Linked DNA regions of Homo sapiens: region 2 is linked to region 1. Evidence: fine-mapped expression QTL. A gene starts in region 1. The other region holds a variant in brackets. All regions are shown on one strand. Distances are from middle to middle. Region 1 holds the start of LRTM2 (leucine rich repeat transmembrane protein 2). Region 2 holds the start of LINC00940 (long intergenic non-protein coding RNA 940).

What was found.
Region 2: its variant is fine-mapped to the expression of LRTM2 in cerebellum (GTEx, PIP above 0.99).

The regions. Positions count from the first base shown.
Region 1 is chr12:1,817,422-1,822,788 of GRCh38, reverse strand. It overlaps LRTM2 (leucine rich repeat transmembrane protein 2), which reads right to left and starts at 2,224. Exons shown (of 5, transcript NM_001039029.3): 1 at 1,975-2,224. All of the region lies in intron 26 of CACNA2D4 (calcium voltage-gated channel auxiliary subunit alpha2delta 4), which reads left to right. LOC105369601 (a long non-coding RNA gene) reads right to left here. Exons shown (of 5, transcript XR_931546.3): 5 at 3,983-5,367. RefSeq lists an enhancer at 1,908-2,654.
Region 2 is chr12:1,934,738-1,940,104 of GRCh38, reverse strand. It overlaps LINC00940 (long intergenic non-protein coding RNA 940), which reads left to right and starts at 3,529. Exons shown (of 2, transcript NR_036546.1): 1 at 3,529-3,651. The variant G/C (reference allele first, on the strand shown) is at 2,989.

The DNA.
Region 1 (5,367 bases):
CCAGGCCCTCTAGGACAGCTGCCCATCACCCCCATCACACACACTGCCCAGGCAGCAAGGAACCAGGTTTTAAAAATCTCTATATTTGTACTTGGAACAGCCATATACCCTCCTGGTTCATTTTAAAACACATGCCCCATCCTCACCCCCAGCCTCCTGCACCCCCGTTTCCTTGTCAAATATTCTCAATCTCAAACAGACCCTCTGGGAAGCAGAACAGAGAAGCCTCCTGAGTGGCCCCTCATGGGAGCTGGTCCCTGACATGAAGGAGGCTAAGGTGTCCACTGGGCCCTGGGGCCGGGCTCAGGGTGGTGTCCCTGGGGCTGGGCTCAGGGTGGTATTCCCAGGCAGGGCACAGGAGGCTTGGCTGGGGGAAAAAGGAGGAAGACCAGAGGGGCAGACAGCCTCTATGCTGGCTCCTTTCTCCTCTGCCCACCCCCAGAACTCCCAGACACCCCCAACCATCACATACATGCCATCCCCTCCTCCTTCCTACACTGCCCACTGAGGCCATAGCAGCCCAGAGGCGGCCCCTGGGCTCTGGTGCCTGGGAAACGGGAGCAGAGTTTGCTCCTCGTGGGCCCAGACAAGCTTCTGTCAAACCCCAAAGACACCAGATCGGCTGCTTAAGCAGCCTCTCTCCTTACCCCTCCCCGCGGGCCTGGCTTTCCTGGTCTCCCTCTTTTGGCAGTGCTGAGACTTTCTTTCTGCCGGTGGGGAGGTGGGGGTGGGAAAAGCTGGGCTCTTCTTGGCAGCTCGGAAGCTGCTGTCGGGTTTCCCTACCAGCTGGACTTCCCCCGCCTCAGCTCCACGTGCTCGGCTCCCTCCCCGCCCCCACCTGAGGCAGTTATCTAAGCTGCAGGGGTGTCATCTGAGTCACAAAGAGACACTGCCCAAGTAGCCCTGACAGCCGGGTGCCAACACCCCCCAGAAATGTGGACAGCTTGGGGGTGGGGGAGAGACAGGGCCGCCAACTGGAACCCAGCCCCAGACCTGCAGGGAGGTGCAGGAATGTGAACTTCCGACTCCTGGTCAGGCTGCTCCTCTCTCCAGCACTGTCCAAATGGGTCTGGGGGATTGAGAGCAACTGTCCCGCTCTACTCAGGGTGTCCATGCCCCCTGTGTGGGTCAAGAAGCCAGGCAGGCCTGGCCCCGCTGTGTACCCCCCACCCAAGCTCAGTGTCCAGCCCCCACTAAGGCTCCCTGACCCATTTGCAGATGGACGGCTGGGTGCACAGCTGCGGGACACCCCAGCAGGTTCTCGCGGGCCTGGTTCTCCTGTCTTGCCCTTGGGCTAGCAGGGAAGGGCTGCGATACTTCTCTCTCCTGCCCACTCCCAGCCTCACCCTCACCAGGGAGGCTTCATGCACAGCTGAGTGGGCCCATGCTCATCTGGGGGAGGGTTCCTCCACACCCTTGTCCAAGGACAGCCACCTGCAGGCAAGCTATAGGGAGGCCCAGGACCTGGGTCTGTGCCCATGCCTCTGACATCCAGGACCTCCTCCCTGCCACCCTCCACCCCAAGCCTTCCTCTGACCTGGCCCTGTCCCCAGCACCTGACTGCCATCCCAACCGCTTCCCATGACCCCCGAGTTTCTTGGGGCTGTCTGTGCAGAGCCGGGCACAACGACAGCACAAGGCTCTTGGCTGCTTCTCCCATGCTGCAGGGACCGGTTTCTATGCCACCCGGGACTGTCATCTGGCGCCAGCGCTGCCCTCCTCCCCACTTCCCAGCAGAATCCACAGCTCTTGTCCCCAGCACTGTGGGCTCAGAGTTCCCAGTGTCGTGCACCTTTGGGATGCTCAGGTGCCTGAGCCCGAGCAGCTTCTTCGGCCCCAGCAATTGCCTGCAGGTAGGAAGCAACTGCAGCTATTCCTGCAGGGCAGAGATGGCCGGTGCCCACTTCCCATGCCCCGACCACCCCCTGTCCCCACCAACCCTCCATTCCTTCCTACCAGCCACTCGGTACTCACCCGTCTTTACTCTGACTGCAAACGCCTTCAATCAGGTGGCTCTCAACCCTCCAGTAAGACCCTCCTGGGATTCCTATAGAAATCCAGACACCACCGGCAGGCAGAGCGCAGTGGGCACTGGTGCCAGAGTCTCCACTCAGCGGGAGCAGCGGCTGGCACGCAGCACACAGCACCAGGAGGTGGACTGCTTGTGGCAGACGGGGGACGGGGCTGCTGGGTCAGTCACAAACTGAGAAGGAAAGAGAGGGATGGAGGGAGAGAGAGAGAGGAGAGAGGGAAGAAAGGGGCGAGGGAGGAGAGCGCACGCGTGTGCGCGAGCAGCGAGCCAGAGTGGAGCGGGGAGTGACAGCTGGGGTGCATCTGTGATGACAGCGGCAGCAGCACACACAGGCGCACACCAGAGGCACCACGGCCGGCCGCGAGGGCAGCGCTCACCCTGGCCACGCTCACATTTCAGTGGAAAAAGGCGCCTGTGGATGAATCGCTGCCGACCACAGGGAGGAGGAAAGCGGTTTCACCACCACCTCCATCTTCCATCCTGCGCCTCCAGGCTCTCCCTCACCCCCCCGGCTGCACCTGTCTTCTGTGCCTCTCTCCTCTCTTCCCCTCCATCTGGGGAAAGAGGGACAGGCGCAGACACAGAGCAAGCGGCTGACTTCTGTTCCGATGGAGGCCCCCCTGGGAAGCTGGTCTTTCTCCTGTTTTAGAGACATGCGAGGCAGAGTCTCCCATCCTGCCTGAGAGAAGGAAAAACCGAACCCTTCTCTCGGTCATACGAAAGAAGGGTACACAGGCATGTCCATGTGCCAGATGACCCTACAGGAAAGGGCCCTGAGCCCCCACAAAGCCAGGGATCACATGGTCATGCAGAGGTCACTGAGCCTCAGGGTCTGACCACCCGACGCCAGGACTACTTAGGGAAGCAGAATGCCAGAGTTGGCAGGCTGGGAGTTTGGGCACAGGGCAGCCTGCAGCAGCAGCCTGCAGACCGTTCTCAGTGCCAGGGACGAGCTTGGCTTCTCAGGGCTCCTTGCTCTTATCTGTGATGGGTCAGGCATGCGAAGGGAAGAGACTGTCATTCAAGAACTTGGAGGCCTCTTTCTTAACCAATCAGGACAAAGCAAGTCAGAAAAATTGATATCCTAAGAGATGGGAAGTGGCTGATCTGAAGGCCAAGTGAGTCAGGGACCAAGCTAGAGGGGAGCCAGGGCCCCACCAGCCTGGAGCACGAACCCTAAATCCCCCTTCCTTTGCGTCCACTGCCTGTAGACAGATGAAGCACCGTGCTAGCGATATATCACCGTGTCCTATGTCCCTCTTCCATTTTGCCTGCTTTGCTGGAGGGGTTCACAGCCAGGACTGGGGTGGGTGTAGAAGAACCCCCTGGACTCAGGATGCCCCTAGAAGGATGCTCCTGCTCACTCCCTTCTGTCCGTTCTGCCGGGTCCCCGGGCAGCACAAGGCTTGAGCTGCAGTGTCTTTTACCTCTGGGGAGTCCCGCCTCTGACCTCTCATGCTGGTGCCTCCCACACATCCCACTGTCAAGCAAAAGAGGCTCCCACCTCCCCATAAACATACTTCCTGCTTCTCCATCTCCATGAAAGCGTGTTCTTCCCTGGGCCTGAAATGCTCTCCTGCCCATGGGTGGCTTCCCCCTTCCTTAAACGCCCCCTGCAAGGTGACGTTTCCCCGGAACACCACAGGACTGGCCCTGCTCCTCCTCCGATCTCTGGCATTCTCTTTGGGCCACCCTCATGTTGTGCAGGAGCTTTCTGTGGTCTGCTTCATCTCCTTTCCTTTTTTTTTTTTTTTTAATTTTTTTAGTATTTATTGATCATTCTTGGGTGTTTCTCGGAGAGGGGGATTTGGCAGGGTCATAGGACAATAGTGGAGGGAAGGTCAGCAGATAAACATGTGAACAAAGGTCTCTGGTTTTCCTAGGCAGAGGGCCCTGCCGCCTTCCGCAGTGTTTGTGTCCCTGGGTACTTGAGATTAGGGAGTGGTGATGACTCTTTTTTTTTTTTTTTAATTTATTTATTTATTTTTTATTGATCATTCTTGGGTGTTTCTCGCAGAGGGGGATTTGGCAGGGTCATAGGACAATAGTGGAGGGAAGGTCAGCAGATAAACAAGTGAACAAAGGTCTCTGGTTTTCCTAGGCAGAGGACCCTGCGGCCTTCCGCAGTGTTTGTGTCCCTGGGTACTTGAGATTAGGGAGTGGTGATGACTTTTAACGAGCATGCTGCCTTCAAGCATCTGTTTAACAAAGCACATCTTGCACCGCCCTTAATCCATTTAACCCTGAGTGGACACAGCACATGTTTCAGTGAGCACAGGGTTGGGAGTAAGGTCACAGATCAACAGGATCCCAAGACAGAGGAATTTTTCTTAGTGCAGAACAAAATGAAAAGTCTCCCATGTCTACTTCTTTCTACACAGACACGGCAACCATCCGATTTCTCAATCTTTTCCCCACCTTTCCCGCCTTTCTATTCCACAAAGCCACCATTGTCATCCTGGCCCGTTCTCAATGAGCTGTTGGGCACACCTCCCAGACTGGGTGGTGGCCGGGCAGAGGGGCTCCTCACTTCCCAGTAGGGGCGGCCGGGCGGAGACGCTCCTCACTTCTCAGACGGGGCGGCTGCCGGGCGGAGGGGCTCCTCACTTCCCAGACGGGGTCGCGGCCGGGAAGAGACGCTCCTCACATCCCAGACGGGGCGGTGGGGCAGAGGCGCTCCCCACATCTCAGACGATGGGCGGCCGGGCAGAGACGCTCCTCACTTCCTAGATGGGATGGCGGCCGGGCAGAGGCGCTCCTCACTTCCCAGACTGGGCAGCCAGACAGAGAGGCTCCTCACATCCCAGACGATGGGCGGCCAGGCGGAGACGCTCCTCACTTCCCAGACGGGGTGGTGGCCGGGCAGAGGCTGCAATCTCGGCACTTTGGGAGGCCAAGGCAGGCGGCTGGGAGGTGGAGGTTGTAGCGAGCCGAGATCACGCCACTGCACTCCAGCCTGGGCACCATTGAGCACTGAGTGAACCAGACTCCGTCTGCAATCCCGGCACCTCGGGAGGCCGAGGCTGGCGGATCACTCGCGGTTAGGAGCTGGAGACCAGCCCGGCCAACACAGCGAAACCCCGTCTCCACCAAAAAAATATGAAAACCAGTCAGGCGTGGCGGCGCACGCCTGCAATCGCAGGCACTTGGCAGGCTGAGGCAGGAGAATCAGGCAGGGAGGTTGCAGTGAGCCGAGATGGCAGCAGTACAGTCCAGCTTCGGCTCGGCATCAGAGGGAGACCGGGGAAAGAGAGGGAGAGGGAGACCGTGGGGAGAGGGGAGAGGGGAGAGGGAGTCATCTCCTTTCCTACACAGAGCTGTTCAAGCAGGGGGAC
Region 2 (5,367 bases), 120 kb before region 1:
GTAAACCTTTCATTTGTAAAAACCCAGTTGGCATGTTTTACCCAATCCTTTGAAGGAAGTTATTTCTAAAGGTATTTATAGCTAGTTTCTAGAGGATAGATGTTCTAGGAGTTGACAAATGGCCCAGATTTCCAGCAACACTTCATCCATCCCAGCCCATGAAGCAGCAGGATGTGCCCGCCTAAGCTTCCGAATGGATAGTATATCACCCTTAGCAGAACACGCTGAGGCGGAGGGCACAGGAGATTGTCACTGTGATGTTCAGGGCGTCATGATCTGCAAGCTGTGTAGCAGATCGAGTTTTATGTTCGCAGAGATGAGGAGCTTAATCTTGGAAGGAGTCAGAAGAGCCCCTGCCAAGTTGTTAAGAGTATCTATGGGAATTCGTCCCTGCTGAGTATTTGTAATAAATAAAGCTTTGCGTTTCAATAGCACTTCTTATTCTCGGATAATAAAAAGATCTTCGATTACTGCACAGCCGACAGGTGTTTTATTCTCATTTTATAGTTCATAAAATGGAAGCGTGAGGAAAACAGGTTTCCCTACCGTTTCTGAGACCTGGGCTTGGACTTTAAGCTCTAGACCTTTGTTCAGCCACAGCATCGAGTGAAAGCATTGTTAGAACACCACCTCCCCTACTCTCCCGCAGGAGGGTGCTTTTTCTTGTGAAGAGAAAGGGTGGGTGGAAAAGGGATTGACTGTTACTGAACCCCTGTTATGTGCCAGACCTTGGCGAGGAGTCTGCTGTGTTACCCTCCAACATTTAGGAAGGGGTGAGTTCTTTTGTTTCGTTGGTATCTCCTACAACATCTAACATAGTGATAAACCATGCAAAGTTTTCACAAAACACTTGAAATTAATAATTGCATATATGGTATCTCAATATTCTTATAAGGAGAACAGGGCGAGGACAGAGACACACTTGGATCTGTTATTCAAAGTCAGTGATCATAGTGCTTGCCTCAGCGATACATGCACAAAAATGGGACAAAATCAATGATCTGATTAACTGCTGGATTCAAAGTCAGTGATCGTAGTGCTTGCCTCAGCGATACATGCACAAAAATGGGGCAAAATCAATGATCTGATTAACTGCTGGCAACCTTAACAATGTATCTTTGATCTTAATTACATGTTTAGAGTTGCTTCGCTAGCTAAGGAGAGATGAATTCCATACTTAATGTTCCTAACGTATTTGCAGTAGCAAATGGCTAATTTCATGAAATATTTATTCTTTTGCTTCAGAACCGAGTAAATAAAACAGAAAGAATATCAGTTGCCGTACCTAATGTGAGAAGGTGCCCATGTTCTGATGCGACGGGGGAACAAACCCAAGCCCAGCATGGTCAGACCTGCCCTGCAGGCTTCAGTCGGGCCTTTCTAGGTCAACACCACAGTCATCTGTTTTGAAAAATAATAAATTCTCCATCCTTTACTGGAATACATCATTTTGAAAGGGACAGGCCCAATTCATTTAGACCAAAGACGAAGTCACCCTTCAAAGGGCAGTTGGTGATGGAGTGCTTATTTCTTCTATACAGCAAAGCAGATGAGAGTGTCTTTGTACAAAAGGACTTTCTCTAGTGAGTCCAAGAAATAGATCAAAAGGGTTATCTAAGGCACCCAAAGCTAGATTTCATAAATAAATGGGCTTTTCTTCTTCCCACTCAGCCCAAATTCTGAGAACATCATGGACGCCACTCCTTAGGTGCCACTGGCTCCCAGGCAGCAGTTTTCACCTGATTGAATCTCAGGTGCAGCCCTGAGATTTCTGTTCGTAGAGGCAGCCTTATCCAGTGCAGTGGGCTTCAGCCTGGTAGACGTTCCAGAAGCCAGAGCCGTCCGGTGTGGGGAAGAGCACCCAGCTATGGAGTCACACAGATCCGCCTTCAACTCCTGAACAAACACATCTTTGGGATGTTGTTTTCTCACTTAGAAAATGAAAGACCCTCACAAGGTCCATATGAGGATTAAATGGGAGCAACATATGGCAGACAGCCCCTCTGTGCCATGACTGTGGTGCGGGGGCCATGCTCCAGTTGTTGGGAGAGGCCCGCAGCTGCTGGGCCGGCCTTTGTTTGCCATCTACCAGGACCTGAGTGTTCAGCCTGGCATTGGCACTTAGGGATCTGTGGCCGCCTTGCTTTACCGCGTTCTCCCCCTCATTTCCTTATCAATGGAATGAAAACAGTAACACTTCTCCCTTCCTTATGAAGGAAGTGCCACAGCTCTTTAAGAGGTCCACATACCCAGCAGTATATTACTTGTAACATACCATGTCGGTATTGTTCTTGCCCCTGCCGTTATGGGTAAAGCACCACCTTAATTGCAAGGCGGGAGAAGGCAGTGCTATTTGATAGGATTTGTACTTCCTGGATCTTCTGAAAAGAAACACTCTGCTCGGTCTCCCCCTTCAGAAGGCCAGACATGGTGATAATTGCAGAGTGAGAGAAACCTTTGTTAGCATCTTCTAGAACTGTCTGGTGTGCATACCCAGCCCTACTGATACACATAGCCCCCTTGTACTGGCTTCTGCCAGCCCTTTTAAGAGGTAAGCCCTGGGCCAACAAACAAAAACAAAACAACAACAACAACAAAATATCGCATGCTGAAGGATTGCCCTGGAAATCACAGATCTGTTGCATTTGGTAAGTTTGTTCTTCCCTCAGACACCAGCAGCCTGCCTGCCCTTTTCAGACCCAGAAAGGACAGAAAGACCTGCTTTCTTCCTCTTGAATGAGAAGGGTGAAAATCTGAAAGTGCGTTTCCACCTCAAGAAATCTCAACTATTGAGTAACAGCCCTCTTTGGTTCTCTCAGGTATAAAGAGAGACCAACAGTCCACCCTTGTTAAGGCCTACTTCCCTGGAGTATGTGGTGCCAAGGATGGGAGGGGCACATTAGAAACGAGTGCTCTGAGCACCAGGCTTTGCTCAGTTTCCATTTGTCAGTGTAGATGCAGGTGGGGCGGGGAGGGGCGGAGTGTTGG[G/C]TGCAGTTTTAGGAACCATGTCTCTGGATTAATGTGGACAGATTGGTCGCTCGCTCCTATTAGCAATGAAGCCTTCTGTTTTCTAACAGGGCCTGCTCTATTCAGACATGTGCCGCCTCCTCCCTTCTCCAAGAAATCAGCCTGCCTTGCAGGCTTTGGAACGTGGAGTCATCTTGGAGGTCAAATGCGTCGTTTGCAGCACGCAGGCTGGGGCAGCGCGGCGTGGTGTAAAGGTGCGTGGCCGCGCAGGCTGGGGAGCCTGCCCAGCATTTTGCTGAACACTTGGCTTTCAGATCTCAGATGCTCTGCACCCCACTCCCTCTTACAATTAGAGGAGTGAGGGAGGTGGTTACAAATACTTGGTATATTTAACTCAACCTTGGGTATCTAGATAGATGTTCACTAAATTGAGTCATGAGTAATGCCTGCCAACAGCTTAGAGCCTTGAGAAAAGTACACAAATAAAAACTGCGTGTGCAGACTGTTGGGGGGGAGGAGAGCAGAGCACTGGGTGACTGGCACTCCCGGCGGCTGGGCAGTACAGACAGGCGCGTGGCCCCGCGCCAGCTAGCAGCCCAAGCTGTGCAGCCCAGGCTTCTGAGGGAGGCAGAAGAAAGAAATCCAAGCCTCGGACAAGTTAACTAAGGGCACGGCAGGAAGGAGGTAAAAATATGTACTAAGTGGGCAAGAGAAAGGGTGGGAGAGCAGACAGTCATAAGCCAAAGTCTAAGAATTTCTCTAAAAGTCTGAGGGCCAAGATGAAAGGCGCCAAATGTCTAGGGAGAAGCCAAGGTAAAGCGTCCTGCTGAGGTCGGCAGACACTGAAACAGACATGTGAGGGACGGGTGGGAGTTCTCAGCATTAGAGATGCTGGGGGACAAGCAGGGCCCCGTCTCCAAGACGACGTTCTCCTGGCCCAGGACGGGAGCTGCAGCCCACCCAGCCGTGCACACACACAGTTCTGTGAGTGCCCCAGCTCCTCCCTCCACCTGTCAGGCACACCTGGTACCTACACAATTGAAGGGGCTCAAAAGACCAAGGCGGCAGTCCCAAGATCTAGGCTGTCAGGAGCCCCTCATCCTGTGTGATGTGGTGTAGAGAATACTGCACTCAGAAAGCTCTGGGTTCTAGTCCCACCACCTCCTGTCTCTTTCGCCACCCAGATAAGTATCAAGGGGAAAGGATTTTCTGTGGTGTCAGTCGTAGGAACCTTGCAATGGTTGCTTTGGGCCAGAGCCGCGCATGCTCCACACTGGCGTTTTCTACGTTGGATGGCAGCCCTGTGGGATGTGCCAGGCAAAACTGGCCCTTCCCCCATCAGCCTCACGGGTCAGGTGTGTCCCAGCTTTTCTTATCGCCACTTACGGCTCCGTCATAAGTCGGTCCAAAATTATTTTTGGTGTTGTTATATTTTCTGCCCATAGCACTTCTCCAGGGTCACTTGTTCCTTAGATTTTATTCCCTCCTGCATAGACAGAGGTTTCCCAGCATGCACAGAGGCTGGGAAACTGTGGCTTGATAGGAAATCTTGAGATAACGGGTCCTGAAAGGACAAGGAGCTCTGCCCGGCGGTGCAGCGCCCAGCCTGTGTGTGGATGGCCGCCACCCATCGGATGCCACGCTGGAGACACAGGGATGAGTAAGACCCTGCCCAGGCCCCGAGGATCTCACAGACCAGTGGGAAGGAGAGTTACTGTAGATGACGTTGTGAGGGCCATCACTTAACGTGCAAATGGGAGGCCAGGGAAGGCTTCCAGGAAGAGGTGATGCCTCTCCTGGTTCTCAAAGGGTGGGTAAGAGTTGACAAAATAAGGGGGCAGCAGGAGTTTAAGGCAAAAGAGATGGCATGAGCCAGGACAGGAAGGCAAGAAGCAGCAATAGTGTCTGTGTACATGTGTGCGTGTGTGTATGGGGTTGTGTGTGTGTGATTGGGTGGGAAGTGGGTAGAATACAAGCTATTCGGTGTTCTGGAACTCGAAAGACAGACTGGCGAGAGATGCGGCTGGCAAAGCACCGTCCAGCCCTTCCAGAGACCAGAGACTCCGTGAGGGATTCTGCCCTCTGCTCCCCACTGCCCGGGCCTGGCTGCCAGCAGGGCACCCTGCCCTGTCTGACTGTGACCAGGTGCATAGAGGCAGTGTCCTGCGGAGGGGAGGCGGGGCCCAGGGACCTGGGCTCTAGCTTCTGTATGGCCACTCACAGAGCAGGATGTGGCCGTCTCCCCCTCGGGAGTCTGTTCCTCTCTTTATGAGATAAGGAAATTGATAATGCCAATAATAAAAAATAATAAAATGATGCCTCACACGTGAGGGGCTCCGTGCAGATGAGACTCAGTACGCCCGTGAGCTGCATGGTGATGTGGGTGCCTGTGGGAGAGCA